5 separate regions of the Homo sapiens genome follow, and regions 1, 3, 4 and 5 are each reported to be linked to region 2. Evidence: microRNA targets listed by miRTarBase, many of them from high-throughput screens and not tested one by one. Region 2 holds a microRNA gene; each other region holds the end of a gene's coding sequence.

What was found. Region 2 holds the annotated microRNA hsa-miR-206 (UGGAAUGUAAGGAAGUGUGUGG, at 1,722-1,743, shown strand). A microRNA usually pairs through its seed, bases 2 to 8, with sites in the 3' UTR of a target mRNA and lowers its output. Matches are read on the target gene's strand: a 7mer-m8 pairs with bases 2 to 8, a 7mer-A1 pairs with bases 2 to 7 and ends in A, and an 8mer does both.
Region 1: miRTarBase lists TAC1 as a target of hsa-miR-206. The part of its 3' UTR that is shown has no 7-base or 8-base seed match.
Region 3: the mRNA of ANXA2 is a reported target of hsa-miR-206. Seed matches in the 3' UTR shown: 8mer at 3,441-3,448.
Region 4: miRTarBase lists ATP5F1E as a target of hsa-miR-206. Seed matches in the 3' UTR shown: 7mer-A1 at 2,647-2,653.
Region 5: miRTarBase lists ZNF185 as a target of hsa-miR-206. Seed matches in the 3' UTR shown: 8mer at 3,093-3,100.

Annotation. Positions count from the first base shown.
Region 1 is chr7:97,739,234-97,744,143 of GRCh38, reverse strand. TAC1 (tachykinin precursor 1) reads right to left here. Exons shown (of 7, transcript NM_003182.3): 7 at 3,672-4,270. The coding sequence ends at 4,224. Among named protein-coding and RNA genes, the nearest start is that of TAC1, 9.6 kb to the right of the region's middle.
Region 2 is chr6:52,142,680-52,147,589 of GRCh38, forward strand. It overlaps MIR206 (microRNA 206), which reads left to right and starts at 1,670; the gene lies at 1,670-1,755. It overlaps LINCMD1 (long intergenic non-protein coding RNA, muscle differentiation 1), which reads right to left. Exons shown (of 3, transcript NR_131248.1): 2 at 4,689-4,788; 3 at 4,135-4,258.
Region 3 is chr15:60,343,985-60,348,894 of GRCh38, forward strand. ANXA2 (annexin A2) reads right to left here. Exons shown (of 13, transcript NM_004039.3): 13 at 3,167-3,705. The coding sequence ends at 3,646. Among named protein-coding and RNA genes, the nearest start is that of ANXA2, 52 kb to the right of the region's middle.
Region 4 is chr20:59,026,110-59,031,019 of GRCh38, forward strand. ATP5F1E (ATP synthase F1 subunit epsilon) reads right to left here. Exons shown (of 3, transcript NM_006886.4): 2 at 4,194-4,320; 3 at 1-2,732. The coding sequence ends at 4,197. SLMO2-ATP5E (SLMO2-ATP5E readthrough) reads right to left here. Exons shown (of 6, transcript NR_037930.1): 5 at 4,194-4,320; 6 at 2,569-2,732. It overlaps TUBB1 (tubulin beta 1 class VI), which reads left to right. Exons shown (of 4, transcript NM_030773.4): 4 at 1-545. Among named protein-coding and RNA genes, the nearest start is that of ATP5F1E, 3.8 kb to the right of the region's middle. RefSeq lists an enhancer at 2,705-3,235.
Region 5 is chrX:152,969,885-152,974,794 of GRCh38, forward strand. ZNF185 (zinc finger protein 185 with LIM domain) reads left to right here. Exons shown (of 25, transcript NM_001395254.1): 24 at 559-657; 25 at 1,390-3,590. The coding sequence ends at 657. Among named protein-coding and RNA genes, the nearest start is that of PNMA5, 22 kb to the right of the region's middle.

The DNA of each region.
Region 1 (4,910 bases), not on the chromosome of region 2:
TAGTGAAATATTGACTGACCTTCATCAACCTAACATGTAAATTCTTATGTTTTGTTGTTGTTGTTGTTGTTGTTCATTTGTTTTCAGAAACAGGGTCTTTCTCTGTTGCCCAGGCTCAAATATGGTAGCACAACCATAGCTCACCTTAACCTCAGACTCCTGGGCCCAAATGATCCTCCCACCTCGCTCCCTGAATAGCTAGGACTACAGGCGTGTGCCACCATGCCCAGCTAATGTTTCATTTATATTTTTTGTAGAGATGAGGTCTTGCTTTTCTAAGACCAGGCTGGTCTTAAACTCTTGGCGTCAAGCAATCCTCCCATCTCAGCCTCTCAAAGCACTGGGATTATAGGCATGAGCTGCTGCACCCGGCTAATCTAACATATAAATTCCTTAGGCTTTCTGCTCTTCAGCAGAAATAGCTATTTTGAGCTATTCTCATGTTGCAATGGTTTTAATAAGGCTTAAGTTAACAGCTTTTAGTTGGCTTTTCTTCTTCCACAAATTCATCCTCACTGTTACATGATAGTTTGGTTAAATACTGTTTTCCTTAAGAATTTTGAATATTTTGTCCCCTTATCTCATGGCTGCAATACTCATCCAGTATTGCTAGCAAGTCTGTTGTCTGCAGTGGTCAATTCCTTATTCTGGGGTTGGCACCTTCCACTGTAGCCTCTGCAATTTCCTGCTAGGGCTATGGCTTACTATTGTGGCTTCCCTTCTGCTTCTTTTTTGGGGATTTACAAAATTTCTGATCTAATAAAAATCTTTCCTGTGTTTTGCACAAATCCCAACATATGTATTAACTTCCTTAAAAATATACCTTTAAAAATCATTCATAATGATTTCGTGTTAGAAGGAGAGATTTCAGCACGTGCTCAAATTGAGACAAGATGCTCTTATTTTTGTCTGTTTGGATGGATCCATGTGAAACTATATCCCTGGGGATGTAGAGAAGGACTTTTATTGTTACTGTATACTTTCCTTTATTTGGATTTCTGCTTATTAATTTCCCTTTGATTCAAGATAATAGAGCACACGTGTTGAATATCTTCCTTCTGCGTCCCCTGCCCCACCCCACCAATGCAGCTGCCGGCTTTCTCCACATGCTCAAGAGCCCTATATGTGCTGCTTACTTGTGTAGACAGCATTCAAGGGCTCCTACTCTTCTGTTTTCCAGTTGGGTTTGCCCAGTGGGAGGTACCGACAGGAGATCAGACAGCTGGGTGGCAATGAGGATGGGATATTTATTACCTGGTCACCCCACTCTCCTCCTCCCATCCATACTTGAACACCTTGTTTTGGCTCCACTCTTTTACTGAAGGCAACTGCCATCAAGCAGCCTTTTGCATACAGGGACCCTCATTTCTTCACGTTGATCCTTCTGGCATAGGGGTAGCTGTTGCTCCCAAGGACATAGCATGGAGAACCATATACCATTACTAGCTTCTCTACATGCTGCCCATAACTTTGTAACTAGTCCCTTTATTAACCCCTTCTCAAATTAGCTTGAAAATAATTTATTTTTGCCCTGGGCCCTGACCAATGCAGAAACAAAAACAAAACAAACAAAAACCAAAGCAATAATGTATACAGGTAAGTTTATATAGTTTGGTCTTTTTGCTGTTTCATAACAGAATACAATAAGAAAGAATATAGGTGAAGAAAACTTACTTTAAAGGAAATATAGCACAAAGAGAAAGTAATAATAAATTGTTTGAGCAGAAACTTAAACTGAAGTTTCTGTCCCTTTTCCTATTTGTGTTGCTACTGGGTTTCTGGGCCTAGAGGGAAAGCAGGCATGAGTGAAGTTCCGCCAATGCATGTCTTTATGTAGCACTGTGGGATCATACCACAGAGATTTATAGAATTTCAGAGTGGGAAGGAGCCACGGGGACTATTTAGTGCAGCAATGAACAGCACAAAGCACTGCAAATTTGTGATATAGCCTGGATTTAATTTGTGAAGCAAAGATTTAAATACCACCCCATGCTGTTGCTTGTTCAGTGTGTCTAGTGACTATAAACATTTTTTATGGCTAAAATATAGAACTAATTTTCACACTGGCATTTTGAACAGTAGCTTAAAATGGGAACAGGTAACATTCACTGAATGCTCGCTGTGTGTGAGAGAGTGTGTTCAAAGCTTTACAGGCATCATTTCACTCAACCCTCAGCTGAATGCCATGTAGTGAGTACTAGTGTTATTCTAATTTTACTGATGAGGAAAATAAGGCAAAGAAAAGTTAAGGGACTCGCCCATCTTTACAAGGCCATTCATAATGTGATAGAGCCAAGATTCAAACCTGAGTAGTATGACATTGAGTCCCATGTGCTTATCCACTAAAATTGTTCCTCTTGTTACAACAGCTATGCAGAAAAACTATATATATATGTGTAAATACATATGTAAATATATATATAACAAATACTGCTTTATGTCTAACAACATACCATATATGTTCCACATTATTAAATACACCATGATGCTGCTTTAAATGACTGTATAATATTCTGTTGTTTTAGTACGTTTGCTTAATCAATTTCATTGTTAGATATTTGCTCTATTTCCCCCTCAGTTTATTTCCAATCCTGACTCCTATTATAATCTCTGACCCCAGCATTTTGTTAAGCTTCATAACCCCATCTGTAAAATGATAATAATGACGATTATTTTTGTCATTGAGTGATTAAGTACATATATAATTTTAGCTAATGATTATTTATTATAATTATTATTCAATGGAATGTTAAACATTGCTGTTGGGGAGTGGGGCTCTAGGGGATGACTCTGGTTTTCTCCATTTTGCTTACCATTATATAATTTTTCATATTTAGATGTATTGTGTACTAAGGAATATGAGTTGGAGTTTTTTAAAAAAACATTTAATTGAAAATATGTATGTTAAAATATGCTTTAGCTCTTCTCTCCTACAAATGGTTTTATTGCTCACCAACAGTCACCAGTCCAGGCTAAATTCATTTTTTTTACTTCACTGAACAGTGCTTGTCTGCATTGTTTCACCACTGGTCAATACTTCACATGCTCTATGCAATCAGAAAATGATTCCAAGGACACTTATCAATCAAAATGCACAAGCCTCCCTCTCAATGCTTGGTATTTATTCCTGACGCATGTGCTTCTATCAGACAGAGAGAGTGTTATAGGTATTAGCAATTCACAGGCACTTCTTAGAAATGCTGGAAAGGAGTTCTTATTTTTGCTGTGAGGGTGTTGCCCTATTATCAACACCTCATCTTCCTGTATCATCTTCCGACAATCTTTGTGAGAATTTGATTTGCTATCTTAATGCTAGTGAGACTCAGGCACTGATGCATTTATACCTGGGCTCTGAGCAGGGCTGAAATGGTAGTGAGCTGATGTTTTACTCAACAAGAAAATAATCAGTGAAATATATCTTTGAAATAGATTATTATCCTATTTGTAAAAAGGAATTAAAAGCATATAAAACCAGAACTTAGCCTTTACTCTTTGGAATGCAAAATGCAATTGTGTTCTTCATAAATGATCTCATGACAAGTGATTTAGCAAAAAAAGTGCATGACAGAGAAACTGCATTTTAGACAAAACCGCTTTGAACCTATTTCACCTATTAAAGGAAAGATTGCTAATTGGACATAAATGTTAATAAAAGACATGTGACAAAAATCTTCAAGATATTTTTTCTTTTATTTAAAATGTTAGCTATCACAACACATCATACAATGAAATGAAGACATTAGAATCACATTGAAACTTTTAAAAACATCTCTATATAGTCACAAAACATGAAACATGCTTCAGAGATACAAATACAGTGTAATACCAAAATCTCAGTACATTTTCACCATGAAAACAAATAGGAAAAGCACAAGACTGTCAGGAGTTTCCTTCCTTTTCCGCAGTAGCTGACACAACTGCTTCAAAGCAATGATTTTTTTTCTTTAGGGACTGTATCATTGACAGGTTTTACAATTTCATTTAACACTGTGCTTTGTTGAGAAATAACCACTTATTTCTATTTTAAGGGAGTCATCATATTGGAATTAAAACACATGTTTACAATACATATTGGCACAATATGAAAAATAAACACTTTTTGAATTTTCAACCCCAAACAATTGTTATTAAATAAATAATTATTCCTCATAGTGCATGTCTTAATTTACCTGTCATTGCCCATTGACACAAATGAAGCTGAATAAATAATGTTAGGTAGTTTATTAACGTCTTCTTTCATAATTCTGCATTGCACTCCTTTCATAAGCCACTGAAAACAAAGAAGAGATAAAGTGTTTTTTAAGTGAATTCACTGAGGGAGTTACACAACTAAAGTTCAGGGCATATAGTAATTTATTTTAAACTCATAATGACATTTTCCCTCTACAGAAGTATTTCTAAGAATGTTATCTGCACATCTTCCAATCCTGCCTCAGTCTCTATTCTGATTGGAAATGATCTAACCACAGAACTCGGTTTCATTCATCATTCATCATATACTTGGTGCCCCCAAAGCATATTTCCACAATATATTGCAGTGTTGATTCTCAGCAGCTTTCTCAAGCAGTGGCAGATACCCATAGTGAATTCTAGAAAGGACAATGCCTAAAATAACCAGGAATACTAGTAGGATAAAAACCAAATGTGGGACTTTTATTCTAGCAGAGACCATGGGCCAAATCTAGAATACCATTTGTTCTTGTAAAGAGGTTTATAGGAATACAGACACACTCATTCATTTACATATTGTCTATGGCTGCTTTGGCCTAAAATAACAGATTTGGGTAGTTGCAACAGAGATTACATGGCTCACAAAGCCTAAAATATTTATAATCTGTTTCTTTTCAGGAAAAGTTTGCTGATCTTTGTTCAAGGGGCATCTAATTGTGTAGGGGTCTCTTCCTACCTTG
Region 2 (4,910 bases):
TTGGCTCTTTCTAGTTCTTTGAACATAAAACTTGATGGTTCCTCTCATCGGTGCAAACCCTCACTCCTCACAACTCAAATGCCAAACACTTTGGAGGATCTCCATCTGACAGATGTAACTAGTTAAAATGGACATTTATTCAGCTCTTAAGTTCCCTGGTTCTATGAAAGAAATGAGACATTTTTATTTTCTTAGAGGCACAGACACACCTCCTTCCTCCTTTGACCAAGCTGCCTCCCTGCCATCAGCCCCTGATAGTGTGTTTTTGGTTGCCCACTGCCCCCAAACTTAGAGAAGGAAGGGTAGCCCCAAACTCTCACTTCTATGAAGTTCATACTTGACTATGGGAGAAAACAGTGTTTTCAGAGCAGAAGCTTACATAGCCATTGGATGGAATTGGATGAGCCATTGGATGATTCCCAAGGTCAGCCCGAAAGATTTTGACTGGGATGCTAGAGACATTTTCCTATTTTCCTAAGAAACAGTATGGTTTCTAAGCCACCTCCATCAACAACACCCCAAGCGCAGAGTTACAGAAAGGATAAAGGTACACCAAGTCAAAAACCCATAGTGTTTCCTTTTCTTCCTTCTCAACATTTTTTTTACCTTCTAAGCCTCTCTCCATGGGTTGATCCAAAACTGTGCCTCCAATCTGATTAGTTTTTTTTAAATAATTACCATTTATAAATATGATAATTAATACATTTCTACGATCCTCATTTTCCTCATCTGTAAAATCAGATAAAATGGCTACATTTCATAGAGTAGGTAGGAGTCAAGGTGCTCACATACGCAAAACACTGTAATGATTCTGTTATAGAAAACATACTTATAAAAAGTTACCTCTTATTTTTTATTACTGTGATTAAATGTTTTTAACCACCCCAGCCAGTGCTGTGAGCCTCAAACCTTTTTTGGGGGCCAACTCTTCCTTTGGCATATGTTTCCCCATTTTCTGGCAGAGAATCAGATACCACAAAGTTCAAAACCCCATCTCCCTCCAGCCAGGGTGGCCATCCAGACCCTGAGTGGCTCAACAGCTGCCAATGTCCCTCATCCTTCTGAGGCTCAGGCCTCACAGATTGTGGGGCAGGTGATGGGCTAGGGGGAGCAGAAGCCCGACAAAAGGATCCTTCCCACAGTGAACAATGGTGCTTGGAATGCTGGATGGGCAGCTGCTGCCCATCAACAAGCACCCAAAACAGATAGACGTACAGTAGGAAGTACAGGAGGGCCGGTGTGTTTCTAAGCATGAGTGGCTCTCTGCGTGAATGTGGAAAATTTCTCTGTTGGATTCTCTCTTCTTTTTAATTTTCCCTTCACTGGATCCCAAACATTAAAAAAGAATCACATTCAAAATGCACAAAAACAGCAGCAGTGAATTAATTAGTAGTAATAACAAAGGACTGGATAGACTGTAGCTGCACAAGAATAAGCCAGGGAAACGTGGTGCTGCTTATCTGTGAACAAACAGTAGGAAGGATTTGGTCCCAAGCAGCACTGCCATTCCTCACAACAGATTTATTTCAGCATGATTTGGTCGGGCGGGGGGGATTTAGGATGAGTTGAGATCCCAGTGATCTTCTCGCTAAGAGTTTCCTGCCTGGGCAAGGAGGAAAGATGCTACAAGTGGCCCACTTCTGAGATGCGGGCTGCTTCTGGATGACACTGCTTCCCGAGGCCACATGCTTCTTTATATCCCCATATGGATTACTTTGCTATGGAATGTAAGGAAGTGTGTGGTTTCGGCAAGTGCCTCCTCGCTGGCCCCAGGGTACCACCCGGAGCACAGGTTTGGTGACCTTCTTCCTCATCAGGGCTTTGTGCCAGCAAATGACTCCCTCACCAAGGAAGCAAGAGCCTCTGAATCCCATCTGGGCTCTTCCTGAACACCCCTATCTCCCCCTCTTGAGGCGTCCTCGCTCAGCCCAAGGTTTCAGGCACACTGACTGCTGTCCCACAGTCCCCGCTGTGGCCAGCCTCCCAGACCTGGCTCCTCTGGCCAGCCTGGTGAGGAAAGGCCTTTCCCCCAAAGGTTTTTCACAGAATCAGCCCTCACCCTCCTAGTTCCTTCCTCTGGTCATATTACTTCTGAAATGAGAGGTTTCTATGAACCAAACTGAATCATAATCTCTTTCAAGCCATGTGTATTGCAAGCGTTTCTCAGGGCTTGCATTGTACTGAGGCAGGTGCTGTGAGTGAGGTTCAGGAAACCATAATAAGTAGTTCATCCGGGGTCACAGTCCCCTGACTCTGCTCTGCTGTCCTTTCCACTTCACACCACAACCCTGTCACAAATGGACTCTGCAAGGCTGTTTGAAGAAACACCTTGAGATGCTAAAATAGCGATTAACTCAACTAACAGGCAAGTTCCTTTCTCCTCTGTTTCCTAAACCCCTGTGTTCCCAGCTCTGACTCCAAAGGGCTTGAACCCACACCAAGAAAGTGCTGAATCTACAGAGGGAAGCCTTGAGCAGGAGGGGAGGCTGCAGTCACCCAAGGCTCATGCCATCACCCCACGAAGAGTTTCAGAACAAGGGAGGAAGATGAAGAGGCCTCCTTCCCTCACTTAAACCCCCATTCCAGGATGGCTCTTACATCCCACACCTCTGACTCCTTGTTTTTAGGGTGAGTGTGTGTGAGAAATTACAGCTGGGACCACACTACATTTACACCTTGAGTTCTTAAACAAAACCACAAAAGAAAACCCGAGAAGATTTGACCAAAATGTGCCAAGATGCACAAGACAGGACTGTCAAATGAAACTGAGCAGCAGCAGAACAAGGACATGGGAGAGGAGGAAAGGGAGGGAAGAAGGGAGGATGCACCATGTTTGCATAGGAGATGGCAGAGGAGTGCACAGCAGCTGGTGATGAGGGGCCCCCTGCCCAAGGAGGCGACAGCACCCAGAGCACTGGGCCAAGGCTCCCCTCTGCCCTAACTGGGCTCAGTAACACCTGCAACACAAGCCTCTCACCTCTTCCAGAAACCAGACAGTTATCTAATGGCCTTTAAGGGCATAAAACCTGTATTTTTGGGGGGGTGGAAGGAACTTGGAAGAACATGGTAAATTACTAGAGATGGGACAGCTACAGAACTGAGCACAGAAACTTCTCACTTTAGATTAGTGGCCCTTCAATTGGAGATGATGTCGTTCCCCAGGGGCATTTGGCAGTGTCTAGAGACATTCTCAATTGTCACAACTCGGGGGTTCCTGGCATCTAGGGATTGGGGACCAGGGATGCTGCTGAACATCCTACAATGCACAGAACGGCCACCCCAACCCTCCAACACGCAGCAAAGAAATATCCAGCCCAAAATGTCAACATGCTAAGGTTGAGAAACCTGGTTTTTTGATAGTGGTGCTTTGAATAAATGAAGTCTCTGACATCAGCATATTATGGCACATTATATTTTGCAATGAAAATTACTGTCCTTCATTCTAAAAACTTTGGTCTTCATGTCTGTAAAATAGGCGGATAGCTCAAGGTTGTCCTTCTTTCCAATGACGTTTTCCCTTTCCTAAATCATACCTGTTCTAATGATACACTTCCTTTTCCTATCCTGGAGTTTAATTTCATGTCCTCTGCTCAGAAACTGGGGGTATGTTGTATGGGTGGCTGTGCTGCTGGGGGTGGGGCAGGACGTGAGTAAAGAAGAGAAGAGAGAGATGGTGGGAGAAAGTGTCCAGAATTGAAGAAACTGCACAAAAAAGAGGTTTGTCATTCTGGCTGGCAAGCTGGACACATGTGCTTTTCAGTCCTGATTTCAGACCAATGGGCTGCCCTCTGCCCCCACAACTGCCTGCTTCCTTGCTCCCCAGGAGGAGCTAGAGAAGGAGCAGAGGTTAGCCAGAGGAAGAGCTGGCAGGCAGCAGCTTCAAGACAGCTATGTCACTGGCAGGAGGAGGCAGAAGGTAAGATGCCAGGACTACAGGGCCAGGAGAATGCACACCAAGGAGGAGAGGACAAGCCAAGACAGAAGCTTCAACGTAACCCTGCACAGACCACTCTAGAACCAAGCCATGTTCTGTGGTGCCCTGCTTTCTCACCACCACCATCATTGTGGGCTTTTACCTTGTTGCCATTTCTACAGTGCCTTATTGAGTGCTTTGATGTCTGGGATATCTTATTTATTCCATACAGAGCTCCCAAGCTGGAGTCCATCTTGCAGAAGTTGGCATCGCTGGTTAAACTCATTCTGTGTTTCCTGATCAGCAGTTTCAACAATTTCAATGATGAAGTGCAAACACTTGCAGCTGAGGAAGGGAAACATGTAAAGGACAGGCTGGAGTTGAGAGTGAACTTCTTGGCCTCCAAAGCAGTCAGGATTGTCTCTAGGACTTTCCCACACCCCTGACACTGTCCATGGTGCCCACTAGGGACACAGTGCACCTTTCCTTCCTTGTCATTAAGCCTCGCAACAAGCAGGCAGAGTAGATACAACCTTCTCCTGCTGTGCAGATGTAGAAACTCAGGTTAAAAGATGTTATGTAACTTCCTAGAAGCAAAAGAGCCAGGAAAGCATTGGTAGGATTTGAACCCAGATAAGTGTGACTCCAAGGCCACATGCATTCCACTTAGTTTTACTTGTCTTCATCAGGAAGAGAAAATAAAAGGGCTGCAATGCCTAGCCCCCAGGGAGAAGGACAATTTTCTAGCATCATTCAAACTATCCTTTCTGCCTACCTCTTTTCCCACCTGCTCCCATACATCGTGAAGACTGGCAGGCCACCTTTCTGGGGAGTTTCTTCTTCTTAGTCAGCTCTCTCCCACAGCTCACACCTCCCTAGAAACAGAGAGAAACCAGTGGGTACTCCTATTAGTTCAGTGGTTCTCAAACTTGAGCTGCATCGGAATCACCCAAAGGGCAGGTTATAGCACTAATTTCTGGGTCCTACTTCCAGATGT
Region 3 (4,910 bases), not on the chromosome of region 2:
TTAAGTCTACCTTTGACTCCCTCCCAATTTTGCCCAGAGCTTGCCTAGCTTTTGCACCGAATGCAGGCTATTTAAAGCTGGAATTGTTGAGTTTGGATTTCTGTCAGGGATTTCTATCTGGTTCCCTCTCCTCTAACATTCTACTGCGAGGAACAAGACCGAGAGGCCTGATTAGGGACACAGAGCTGGGAACAGCACAAATGCAAAAGAGGACTGGCAAAGTGTTTTTGTTTCAGGGGAAAGTGTTTTTGTTTCAGGAAACCTGCTGACATAGGGAATGCTTCTGTTTTTCTGCAGAAATGCTGCCTTCAGTGGACAAAATTCAGCCACAATCAAGCTAATTGAGTGCACAAATGTAATATTTTTCCAGGGCACCTCCAATTTAATGCTTGATGAAATTGTGTCTTTCGCATATATTTACAAAAGCTTTTCTTCATCCAGAAATGTCTGTTAAAATTGCTTATAGATGCTGAGATAGCAAATCACTCTTCTAATGTAATGAGGTAAGTCATCTCTATAAACTTTGCTTGCTCAAATGTACTCGCGTAAAAGAAATCGGGCTACAAGCTTTTCTCAATAAATAGAATGAACAACTAGAACTTGATGGCTGTAGCATGTTCTGCCTCACTGCTAAGGGATGTTTAAAATTGCTCGCACTCTCTCTCCTCGCTCTTGCAGCAGAGTTTTCATTTTGGTAGTTGATGGAAAAAGGAGGTCAAATAAACCGATGTGGATAAGAAGCCAAAGCCGTTTGTCAAAACACAGGGAGAGGACTGGAGACGGGAGTCATTTAAAAACTAAAAATTGATTTAAAAGATTTCTGTCCTCAAATCATTTGTCTTGCTAAATGTAGCCATTTTGTGAGCCTGGTTTTCCCTGCTGTAGCTATATTTACTAATAGTTTATACCATGGGAACTTCACATACTGGGGAAGATTCATATATACAGCCATTTGTGCATAGCCCAGTAAAACTGGTCTGAAGATCAAGTCCATGGAGAAGTCAAGACCTTTCGGGGTTCACCCATTTGTTTCTCAATAAGATTTGCCTTCTAACTTTTTTAACTGGAAGGGCAACTCTGTAGCAAAAGGCGGAAAAGACCATCTCACACACACCTAGGTCACAATACAGGGCTGTCATGTATGGCTGCACAGGTTGTGCACTGCACAACACCAAGGGAGGTATCATTCACATAGACTACAACAGGATGAGTGTTCTCTGGGGTTGTGCAACATGATGGCTCTGCCCAGCCCCACCAAGGCAGGGAGAAAAAAATCATGTTCTTGATCACAGTGTTACAGTACAATAAGTTTTCATAGCTACATTGCATCAATTACCTTTTATTCCTCAAAGAATAAAATCAAAGTTCTTGTTACCAACTCACAGCCTGCCAGGTACCCTTTTCCTTCTCTTTGCAAAGTAAAATTTCTGGGGAGAATAAGTCAAACCTCCAGATGGTTCTCTTTATTCATGAAACAGTTTGGACAGCTTGACTGAAGAGGACAGGCTGAAATCCAGAAGAAAATGGGACCAAAATTCAAGTGCCCTGGCTGTGAGTTTTGGAAAACACTGGACTGCCATTGCTTTGTATAGAGGAAAAACAGTAGACAGTGTTTGAAACAGTTCTCCAAGCGCCTTTCCTATGTTGGCCTGCCCTTTCAACTTTCCCACATACCTGTTGGCCACACCAGTGGCCAGACTGTCCTGGGCACAGTGGGAGCGTAAGTTTCCCCATATTCACCCCATGGCCTTGTCTGCTCCACACCACTGCTCCCTTTGCAGCCTGAAACACACGTATGATTGAGAGGTAACAATGCCTAAATGTTCACTGATCTGAAACACTGCTCCTGACAGTCTCTGCCCAGCCCTATCAATTCTGAGTTCAGTATAATTTGGGGTTAATGAGAAAGGTCCTGCTTCTTAGGCAGTTCCTTGAACTCTGCCCAAGCACACAGAACAGTATATTCTGTGATTTGGGGCATCCATTTTAATATGTATAGGCAGGACACATTTGATAAAATACCTGATTTTTGCATAACCTGCTTTTTAAGGACTATCTCAGGGGCCTTTCACATACGTTATGGGCCACTAGTGACCCAAGAGCCATGCTCGATCCAAATTTCCATCTAAAGTTTGCCAAAGGGCCAAAATAGCAGCCAATCAGCTCACGGATGTATTTGGTTTGGTCAATGCCATGTTGTTACGACTGTTGTTTGAATTGAATTTGAATGCCTCAAGCAAGGCAGGCATTCCCCATTTTCCCCAGATTCCCCACTTCTGTCCAACCTGCCCATTTCATACATTCATTTCCATTACCTACCTAGTCCCTGCAGATGACTGAGTGGGCCCTGCATCAGCCAGGTGCCAAAAATGAGTAGTTGACACACCCTCCACTAAGGAGAAGGGTTAGGAGGAGTAGTCAACTTCCCCTCACTCCCAGCCCTCTACCCTGCTTATGGGGAGCACTTGTATAAAAAGGAATCTGCAGAACCCAGTACCAGCAGCCTGGGGACAGCACCTTCACATTTATGAACACAGATAGATACATATATATACATGCGTATGCAGTCTATCCATGAAAATGTACTGGAAACCAGGCGACTCCAGGGAAGGCCACTGGCTAGTAAGGGAGAGACATAACTTTCCCTGTACAGAAAGAAGTCTCTGAACTTTTTGACATGTGTACCATTGTATCAGCGACCTGTCATTCATTCCCAGACCCTTAAGAACCTGCATGGAGTGCTTTCTCCCAGCTGTAAAACCTCACCTTAGATTTTAGTGTGCAGCTCAAATTGTTCCTTTTCTCTATCATCTTTCTCAATCCTCCCAGTCAAAAGAAATCCCTTCTCCGTGCTTCCCATCGGCTTGTGTTGGATCTCCTTTGCCAGAATGCTGTAGCCTGCCCCACCCTGCCCCACTGCTCTCTCCAGTTTGTGGCTGCCCCTGATGCTTATTTTCACCTAATTAACCTGTAGAAAGATAAGCAGATAAGGGGTCCCTCTGGGACCCTTTTTCTCCCCCATAGGTCCTCTCATGCCCTGGGCATGTACTGCTGCCCAACAGAACTTTCTATCGAAATGTTCCCTGCCTGCGCTGTCCAGATATACTAGCTGCTGACCACATGTGAAAGCTGAGCATTCGAAATGTGGATTGTGTGACTCAGGAACTGATTTTATTTTATTTTATTTCATTTAAATTTAACTTAAATAGCGACACTTGGATAGGGGCAACCATACTGTACAGCTCAGTCCCAGAGCTTTCTTCCTACAGGGACAGCCTCACCAGCTGAACCCCAAGCACGTTTAATTTTCAAACAATTCAGTTGAAAGCAGGGCCACAAAGTACGTGTTTCTAAAGTACAAATTCAGTTTATTCATCTGTTTATGACACAGTACACAGGAGGCAAAGTGTTTCACATCATAGACTTCACTTCCAACTCCTTGGAATGTTCATTTCTTTGGCTTACAGGAGAGACTAGACAGGAAGGCCAGGCAATGCTTAGGCAACTAAAATGAGGTTGGGGGTAATGCTAACGTCACCCTCACAGGGATGGCCACGGGGACTGTTATTCGCAAGCTGGTTTTCTAGACCTGTTAGCTGGAAGCATGGTGAGCACCATTTCTGGACGCTCAGGCCGTGTCGGGCTTCAGTCATCTCCACCACACAGGTACAGCAGCGCTTTCTGGTAGTCGCCCTTAGTGTCTTGCTACAATGGCCCAGGAAAGAAAAGAAACGTGGTATCAGAAAAAAGCCCAGACTCCTCAATAACACAGAAGTAGCCTCAACGCACAATGAAGCTTCTCCCATGACAAAGAGAAGACTCTGCAGGAGACCTGCCCTGATACAAAGGCCTGGAAGGCCACACCCAAACCATTGCCAGGGAAGCCTCCAGGAGTGTGGTCGGAGGAGGTGCTGGGGAAGACACTCAAGGCTCCTTAGGACTGTGGGGTGGAGGGAGTGCAAGGTGCTGAGGATTGACATAGGTTAGTGACCAGGGCTGTTCTTACTGCAGCAAGGTCCTACAAACACCCTAACTTTCCTCTCTCGTCCTCGTCTTTCCACAGAAAACAGGGTACTTTCCTAGCTCACTCTCCTATTTCCTGCATTATTAAGGTCAAGTGGAAATAAGCTGGTGAGGTGAGGAACAATTACTAAGAGTCTAACTGGTCCTTTGACTTTAAACATGTGCCCTAATAAACCTGGCTACAAAAAATCCAGCTCTAACTTTATCCTTGCTAACCATGGGCATGCCTTTGGACATCTGAGGAACTTCTAGAAAGGGGAATTGCAAGGGCTGTCTGAAATCTACACAGTGGTACCACTGTGAATGCCATCACTTCCTTACTGCAAATGCGACATCACATCAAAACAGACAGATGCTAAACTGATTGGAGAGATGGGAGTTCTGAATAACTGAAAGTTGTTAGGCCTATCCCAGAGGATTTTTCAAGGAACCAATGCATAATAAAAGTAAAATGTGGCCGGGCGCAGTGGCTCACGCCTGTCATCCCAGCACTTTGGGAGGCCGAGGCGGGCGGATCACGAGGTCAGGAGATCGAGACCATCCTGGCTAACACGGTGAAACCCTGTCTCTACTAAAAATACAAAAAAATTAGCCGGGTGTGGTGGCGGGCGCCTGTAGTCCTAGCTACTTGGGAGGCTGAGGCAGGAAAATGGTGTGAACCCAGAAGTCGGAGGTTGCAGTGAGCCGAGATTGTGGCCACTGCACTCCAGCCTGGGCGAGAGAGCAAGACTCCGTCTCAAAAAAAAAAAAAAAAGTAAAATGTAACTGATCTTCCAAGCCTCTTCGGGATGTCAGCAAGCCTTGCAGGATCATCGTCATGAACACCGATGATCATTGTAGAGTAACAGATGTGAAAAATATAAAACATCTGCCTGATTGTACAAAGT
Region 4 (4,910 bases), not on the chromosome of region 2:
ATTTGCTTTTGTAATCAGCAATAATAAAATAGCAGGTAGATGGATGACAGTTGCTCATTCTGAGAAACTTCACTCTTTTCACTTATGCATCACGAGGAAATAACTAAAATACATACCAAGAGAAAAATACCTTGCCATCGGATCATCAACAAGTCTTCTATTTACAAACTTCAAAAAACACAAAACAACATTCATGTTTTAAATGCTTTCTACTTGTGGTTCAAGAAGCACTAGATTTAGTAAGAAACTCTACCTATATACTTAGTTTGAAGTTAGTAACTTCCTGAGATGCTAAAGACTTACAGCCTGCGATTATACAAGGATTTACACATGCTTCCTCTGGTGCTTTACTTCCCAAACCTAAAAAAGCAATGAAATAGATGTAAGGAAGGAGGGATTTAAACCTTTTAAAAAACTTTTGCTGACTTATATTACTGTAAAGATTTGTTTGCTCAATAGTAATCATTAAACTACAAAGTAATTCAATTTTAAATGGCAAAATTGCTTTATTTCAGACTAAATAAATTCCTTTTCTTGAAGCCTAACCATCCAGACTGAGTAGTTAAAAATATTTAGAAATGCATCTCACCATCCTACTCTTTCGTATGGTAGAAATAGATGTAAAAACACAAAACAAACTAGAAACTTAAGAAATCTGTCCCTTTTGATTTTGAAGAGCTTATCCTTTAGCAGTACGGTTGCTCCAGCGACCTTGGTCTCTCAGAGCAGCAGCATCACCGAAATTTAGAGCTTATCCGATTCCTTCACTTTGCTCACAAGAACGATGTGAACTAAGAGATTAACTGACAGCTTCAAACATCATCCAACTAATTAGTGGGATACTCATTAAGTTGGTCTGACTGGGGTCACCTCATCACTGGGCACAGTCATCCTGCCAGCTACCCAGCACTGCTGGAGGCAGGAAGTTTATTATACTACTGGTTTAGGATTTTTTTTTAATCACGGAGAAAAGAGCCTCTAAGAATCTCTGCTGACAGTAAACTTGTCTTTTACTCAGTGACTTCACTCCTTTCCATATCACAAGCCCTGTCCCTAAGTCTCACCTCTAATTACCCCATCTGCCTCCTTAATAATATACCATCTCTATACCAATAATCTACCAATATACTACCAATCTACTATGCCATCTATATACCAGTAATACCCCATCTGCCTCAACATACCATATACCAATAATCTGCCAATATACTACCAATCTACCATACCATCTATATACCAGTAATACCCCATCTGCCTCCTTAACATACCATCTATATACCAATAATCTACCAATATACTAGCAATCTACTATGCCATCTATATACCAATAATACCCCATCTGCCTCCTTAATAAATGACTTATCTCTAATTACTTGACTGGAAATCATTTAGCCCCTTTGCCTATTAGTTACTTTATTCGTCCCATGTCAAAAAGGCCCGATAGCTTTTTGATTCATTTATTCCTGTTCCCTGTAATGGAGGATACTTCCTAGTACCTTAATCTTGGGGGCCACAGCACTGAACTGAGGTGCCCTAACTTGCCAACAGCAGGATGACAGCTCCGAGGCGGAGGACTCCAAGGGCTCCTAACCTGCTGTTTTCCAGAGGCACCCTCTTCCACTCAATTGGCTCTGCCTCCCTGCTCGCTCTGTGCTGAGAATTCAGTAAAACCTACAGGTCAAGTGTCGGGACAATAAGTCATTCCCAGAAGCCGAGAACAAAGATGTTCTTTTCGGCTTATCCTCGGCATTGCTGACAGTGGCCCTGATAAATCATTGTGAGCTTAAGTACCATGTGAGAACTGATCCTAGAATGGTGTTTCAAAATTTCCAGTTCAAATTTATTTCTCCAGTCTCCAAAAACAGTTAAAATCAGGCAGTTAACTTTGCAATGGTGTTTTACTTGCCCAAGCCCTTTCAAGTTTCAAAGAAAGATAAAAACATAACTTGCAACAATTTTTCATCCCTAAATAATGAATGAATGAATCACTATGGAAATACCACGAAACTGCTGTTGTGGTCACCGTGTCCCAGACTTGCAGTCAAAACTCCTAGGTTTTAATTTCAGTTTGGCCATCAACTCAATGAGCAAGTTATTCAATAGCTTTGCCTCATTTCCTATGAGAAATGCTACCAGAGTATAAAGATTCATTTACAAAACAATGTGAAAAACACTTTGTGCTTAAATTCTGTAACCGTTCTTATCTATAGGCTTTAAGTGCACAATACAAAACAAGTACAATTTAGTATTTCTTCTTCTAATCTACACTTTTAGTATTTAATAATTATTTCCATTTGTTACTGATAACCATGTCATTATTCTGACATGACAACAATTCAAAAATAAGGGACTACGAAGCCTCAATGACAGCAGATAATTTTGATCACCAATTAATGTCATGAAACAACTATTTTGAGACATTTTCAAAATGCTTTCTGTATCCCTTTGGTCACTAAATATTAAATCTGGCTTCCCCTGCTTTTAAGAAACCCTGGTTCACATGGCCATAATCATGCAGCTGTGCAGACAGTTCCTTTAAAGAAAATGAAAAAGTCTCACAAACTAAAATCAAGAGTAACAGTGAACCATATTTCAATTTATTGACATTGTCAATTTATGAACAAGACAGGATTTTTTTTTTTCCCATGGAATGAGATCCTTTTCAATCTGCCATAACATGTGCCCACACATCTTCACCTTGGAAATGTAGCATTTCAAGCTTTAGTCAGGGTCTAGGAGGAAAAAGAAAATGCAAGTTGCTGGCTAGTTCTCTGTGTTTTCTTAAAAACTCAACATGAATATAAGAAATAACTTCCTTATAGTGAACTGTATAACTGTGGCTATCATTCACATTGCCGTGGCTCAGATGTAAAAAGTGCTGGTTCAAGTACACAGGCTTAGTCAAGCAGGCATTTTCCTGCTGAGTAAAAGTAAACACTCTCCCAGAATAAAGAAACTACTTTGCCTTTAAAAGACACTAACATCTCCTTGTGCTAATGAGGTGGGGTCTGTAACCCTGAAGGGCATAACAGAGAGGGGCTAATGCTTTGTTTAAGGGGATCGGACACTACTTCCTGACCCCCAGGACTTTGCAAAATCTCAGCATTAGATGCAGTCTGGCAGCTCTGAGCCGAGTGAGGCTAAATGATTTTCTGTTAGCTTACTGTTAAAACAAAACAACCCAACATAAAACCAGGTCTCATTACTCAGAATTATGAGATTAGACAGAGAGCCCCTAGAAAAAGGGCTAAATTCAAAACACTGCATCTCCAGACTTGTAATAAAATATTTACTAATTCAAAATGAAAATGAAAAGTGCTTAGGGGAGACAGTTCCAATAAGTAAAATTGCTCATAACCATAAGCTGCCAAAGGATTAATATTTATCACATTTCTGTGCTATTATGGGTCTGAAGCTTTTTAAAAGCAAAACAAGAAAAATTAAATCTGAAAAACATCTCTCTGATAATTTGCCTTGCCTACTTTTGAAATAACAATGTCAAGAAAGTACTTTAGAGATCAAACCACTTTTATAATGTGGAACACAAAAGTCTACACTTATCAACTGTACAGACCTTTTTATTTCACGAGAATTTAACTTTACATCACCAACATCTTTGGAAAAGTAAAATGAACCAAACCCTCTGAAAGCATAATAAATTAGCAAAACAGTATTCGCTGCGGGGTCTTGCAGATTTTATTGCTTGATACAACAGCAGGACCCTTGCCTGTGCCTGTAGTTATTATGTTCGGGAAGTAGTGATTTGTGAGAACATTAGTGGTTGTGGGGGAAATAAAAATGTAAAGAACTGTAGTTTTTCATGCTCTTGGACTGTTATGTAACTCCAATTGCAATTATACAAGTGGGGAGTTCATCCTCCAAATTATTTGATTTGTGCAGACAAATGAAACAGGTTTAATTCAAATACGATGGCTCTCTACCTAAGCATTGCTAAATGAACTGAAAATCAATGTGCCAATTACTTCTGCTTGTCAGGGCCCAAGAAGACTTTCTTTTTATTAGGCCAGGGGACTTCTATAACCTGCATGCTTTAAATTATACCATCCCAATAACTAACTTCCAAATACACTGACTAAAAAATGAATAGAACCCAAAACTAAAATTATTTTGATCTTTATGGTGCTCCAAAAACTTAAGATGCAACTGTTCTTCTAAATAAATCCATAACTTACAGATTATTCCTTCTTTACTTTCACAATTTTTACGTTGCTGCCAGAAGTCTTCTCAGCATTTGCTTTGAATTCTGTCTTCAGTGCATCTCTCACTGCTTTTGCACAGATCTGGGAGTATCGGATGTAGCTGGGAGAAAATGAGAGAAGGTATATGGTTAATTATCAATATTCCAGCCAGACAGCTGTTACTGTGTTTTCGCTTTTCTTCCTGTACTTTTTATTTTGGTTTGGTTGTACCTTATTGTAGAATTGGATTTAAAAATATGACTAATGCCAAAAAGTATCTATACAAAGAAAAAGAACTAGAAAAAAATGTACCAAAGTATTAACTGGTGTTTGGATGGATGATCTTTGATTTTTCTTCTTTGTACTGTGTTTTCTCTTTAGTGTATATTAATTCAAAATGAAAGATGCATAAATGTTTTTAAAAATCCCACAGCATAGAAAAAAAGAGACTGAAATGTTTAGAGACTATAACATGAATCATGAATTCTCTCCTCGATTTCTCTCCTTAAAACTTTAATTATATTATTCTTGGAAAATGAGGTATACATAAGAGAAAACTATTTTGAATTAAAACAATTCGTTCTAAATTATTTAAACTCTTCTCTGAGAATACTGAATTCTGTCTCACAAGTCTGCCACTGAAAATAACCTCCTAATGAAGATTTCTAAATCAAACTGAAAAGTGCTTAGAGAACATCATCAATTCTAGCA
Region 5 (4,910 bases), not on the chromosome of region 2:
TATTCTAAGTGACATTGGGGTCCCCATTCTCCACAGTGTGTGGCACTTTGTAACCCCAGGTTGTTGGTTCCAATCCATTTAGGGTGTCACCTCTGGGTGCACTGAGAAAAACAACCCTCCCCTTTGCCTTGACAGAATGTTAGGCAGGCTTCTGTCCTCCCCACAGGGCCTGAACTTTGCTTGCTCCTGGTTAAGTAAGTGCTGCAATGCAGAACATGCCCCACTTAGCAGCTTCTCCTGAGAACCGGCTGACCACAGGGAAACACATTTCTGGTCAAATCATGCCAAACAGGTTCCCCTTTGCTTGCCCACTGGCCCTTGAAAGTAGCTGAGCTGCTAGCTGTGCTTACTACTCCCTACTGAAAAAAAAGGCTTTTTTTTGTATTATTTTGTGATGTTTTTTGTATTATTTTGTGATGTTTGCAAGTCCTGAGGTCCAGGATGTGCCACGGGCTCACAGCATCTGCTCGCCCACCTTGTTCAGGCATCCCCTTCCCACTCCACTCATTCCTCTTGCTTTGCTTTGTGTGTTGACCTCCAGCTTGCTTTTCTTTTCAGTGTGGGATTTGCAGTAAACCGATGGGCGATCTCCTGGATCAGATCTTCATTCACCGTGACACCATTCACTGTGGGAAATGCTATGAGAAGCTCTTCTAGGTGGGTGCTGGCACTGCAAAGGACAAGTGGCCAAGAGACTCATTAAGGAGTAGAGATGCACCCTGGTCTCTCCTGGAGTCTCAGCCCCAGACACAGCTATCTTTCTTGGCTCTTCCTTATGTTCAGGGGGCCTTGTGTCCTCATGTCCCTATGCCTTGTGATACTTTGAGATCTTAGGTGGCATGGACAAAGGCCCTCAATGAGGACACTTCCAAATCACACCTTCCGTCCAGCACCTGAGCCGAGCCCTCTAGCTACCCTGGGATACTCGCTCGGCCGCTGTTGTTAGCCCCATTTTGCAACAAGGAAATAAAGATATAGAAAGGGAGGGGACCTGGAGAAACCCAGGTAGAATCAGGACCTCACCCCAGGTCTTTGGATTCTTGTCCAGGGCTCTCTGTTCACTGTCACTCGCATAGCTTCAGATCAGGACTGCATAGCCATGGTGCTCAGTGAAACAAGCCTCTGGGCCACATTATGAGAACTGCCTGAAGATGTGTGTTTGCATGCTCATAGCCAGTGGAATTTATCACGGTGTCTGAGCACAGAGCAGAATATATCCCTTGAAGGCAGTAGCAACCAGGCTTTCCACTAGCTCCATGCTGATGGTCTTCTCTCCAGAAGACACACCTTGAGCTAGGTGGTAACTCCTGATGACTGGAGCAGTCACCCACCCTGAGGGCCTCTAGCTGATGTGTTTCCAGTCTCATGGCTACTTCTGTTTTCTTTTAGCGACCCCCCACCGCCAGGCTGATCAGAAGCTGATGACTCGTGGACAAATTTGGCTGTCCCCAGTTTTGCCCCAAGTTGCTGTCTCCCCTTCCCTCACCTCCTCCCTCCCTGTTTGATTTCTTCATGCTTTTGCCCTTCTCAAGTTGAAGTTGCATACATCCAATATCGTATCTTAATGATGCTATGATAATTGCTTGTGTGTGTAGCTTCTTGTAGCTTAGAAAGCGCTTTATGCCCATGATGTCATTTCAGGCTCAACCAAAGAGGATCAAACAGGAATTCCATCTTGGCTTCCCTAAGACAGATTGGCTTTCTAATGAGTTTAAGTGGGCAGAAGTGTAGGGTTCAGTGTGTCCTGACTCCCTTGAGGCTTATAATGGGCCAAGTTGAAGACTGTTGATGATCCCTGGTGGGTAAATTGCAGACATCAAATGCTAGGGATTGGCATAGGCTAGTGTTTAGCTTGTCTATTTGCCATATCTATTTTTTTTAAATTTCCATACACTTGTAAAAGTAGTTAGTTGCTTTTGATTGAGTTATATAGCAGTTTTTCATTTGGTCTTCCACTCACCTTTCACTATATTTGAGTGTTCCCTTACAGGTATGTTGGCATGTGTTGGAAAATTTACACAATTAGGTTTAAATTCAGTAGGATGTGATTTTAGGATGCTACTGATCAAAGTGATATCTGTGTCTGTTGGAATCTTGATAGCTGATTAATTTGCCCTCAATTCTGCTCCCTGAACTTCACACATAAATCTTCCCAAGTGGGTTTTAGGGTGTATAGATCCCAGCAGGATTAAGGAGGTGGAAAAGCAGCTAACATTTCTTGAGGCTCTACCACATAGCAGGCACTGTCACAGAGTAATGGCATTAATCCCCATAATAATCCTGTGAAGGTGATATTCTCATCCCATCTTAGACATGAGGATATTGGAACTCAGAGAGGTGGCTATTGCATTGCGCAGAACGCTACAGAGCCCATGCTCTTCCCAGAGCAGCACCCACAAAAGCAAGCATTGATTTTGTGCTCAGTGTGTGCCAAGCACTGTGCAGAGGGTACACAGTTCCTGCCAGGTTAACACCCTCCCTTCAGGCCTCCCAAAGGCATAGGCTTGCAAAGAGCAGAAGGTGTGAAATCACACTCTTCCTCTGGGCATCCTGGATCCCTGAATTATCCCCCCCCCCATGAAGTACTTCAAGGGCCAAGCTGCCCCTTTCCCTCCTCTCCGCCCATGAAAATGCCTCCAAACTGAGATGCTTTCAGCTGAGAACAGATTTGACTCACAGACATTACCAAAGAGGAGCTTGTGAATCCAGGAAAAGCTCCAGGGGGCTAGCTGATCTGAGCAGAGAGCTTTCAGTGACCCATTTTCCTGTCTAGACTCTGCCTTAAGCTAGTGGCAACTGCTGGGGCCCCAGGTACTTGGGACATGGAAACTCGTTGGATGGCTGGGCAGATGTAAGCCTGTCCATGCAGTCAGCCGATCCTCTGCTCAGGTTCAGCTGGACTCTGCCATCTGTGGGCCCAGCATCACTCTGTAAGTTCCTTGAAAGGAAGAACAACCTTAGAGTATTTCTGATACAAAATGAGGGCCTCTGCTCTTGATTTAATTATAAAATGTCTACGTCTTTCTCCAGTTTCTGAGCCCTATGCACATTGGCTTGTGGGCTTGTTCTTCCTGCCAAATGATCAGAGAGGAACATTCCATTTATTTGTAGTGGATTTCCTCTGGAGGGCATGTACCCACACTAAATACCAACTGCTCTTCCTCAGCTGTAGTCCCCAACATCAGACTTGGCACGTGGTGGACACTAACACACAGGCACTCAATGAATGAGTGAAGGAAATAAAAGTCACCCCGTTGGTGAGAGGTGCTATCCCTGAGTCTCAGTGCAGGACCAGTGGATGAAAGGCAAGGTAAAGAGGCCCAAGATAGGCTGGCTTCCCCCGTTCAAGGTATAGTCTGCCTTTAAGGGAGTTTTAGAACCAACATGCAAGACATTGAAAGAAATCTTGCAAGAGCCATTATTGACTTAGATCCAAAACAGCCTCTCTCATGTCTAAAAAGGCACAGAATTTTGCAGATCTGAGGAAGAGGGATGCATTACCTTTTTGCTTCTTTTCAATTGCTTAGTGTTTCTAATCATACTTAATCCACACTAATGTGCGCAATTATAATAAATGGTAAGATATCACATGTGTCAGTGTTAAAGTTTTCTTTTGAAGTGTAATAACTTGGTGTATTCAGCTGTGTGATTTCTTTATTCCTATTGCCTGAAGCCATTCTCTGTACAAAAGTAAACAAGTACTTAATAGCAAGCTCTAGACACTGGGCATGCACAGGAACTGTGGAATTCTAGACACATCAAATCTTAATGAAGAATATTGTATTGTGGCGGCAGAGAGCGGGGGCGGTCCATCCTTCTCATGATTACCACTGCAGACAGACAGCCACCTAGTCATTAGTGCCCACTTCCAGTGACCAGGAGCTCAGTTCCTTACAAGCCCCTGCTGTCTGTGGTTTTAGAAGATGCATTCTTCAGTTGAGTTAAAGTCCATTTCTGTATGTCACCCACTGGTGGTCTTTAATCCCTCCGCTAGATGCCAGCTCTTAAAATAGATGAAAATACTTCTCAGATTCTGTCTTGGTCAACTCTTCTCACATTTAAACACCCCTGGTCCCTCTAACTCTTCCTTGACAGTAATTCTGAATACACATCTCTCAAAGGCCCTCCTCAAAGGTGACCCCAACACATACTCCAACTCATTCCTCTAGATGTGTACCAGTGTAATCTGCATGCGATCCAAGTCTTGATTCAACCCAGGGACAGGAAAGGGTGATCAGGAAGTCCAAAGATAGACATAATACTCCGAGAACTCCTTCTGCCACTGAGTAGGGGCCTCAGGGCCATTGGACTAGTGTCCCTCTAGCTATTTTCTCACCCCAACTTTGGCCTTCATCTTGTTACAATGGGAAGGAAGGAAGAGCTTTTACTAATTCAAATGACAAGGACTGCAACAGTAGCTCCTAACTAGGTATTTGTAGGACTTTTAATTGGTGACAGTGTGACACAAAGACCTAAAGGAAAAATAGGGGAGGGTCATTCTGAAACAGCAAGTCGATCCTATTGTTGGGCCTCCTCCATTACCATGACTCCTCCTTTCTATCCCAGGTTTGTATCTGTGACGGTCTCCTACCCATGCATCTCTATGTCCTCTGGGGACTGCTCCTTGCTTAGGATTGTGTTTGGCCTGTGGATTTTCCTCCCCAGAATGTATTCCTCTTGTGAAACTTCTCTGTACAGTATCCTCTGCCTGTGAAGGTCCCAAACCTGCTTCTGAATGCCTTCTTCCCACTGTCCTCTGCCTCCTAATGCCTTCTGCTCCTGGCTCCTTGCACAGTGCCTTCTACCTGCAGATGCCTTCTGCTCTCTGATCTCTGCTGCTGAGTTTGTTCATCACCTAGGGCCCAGCCAATGAGGCCTATCTGCACAAGGGCTTCTGCCTGTAATTGCCC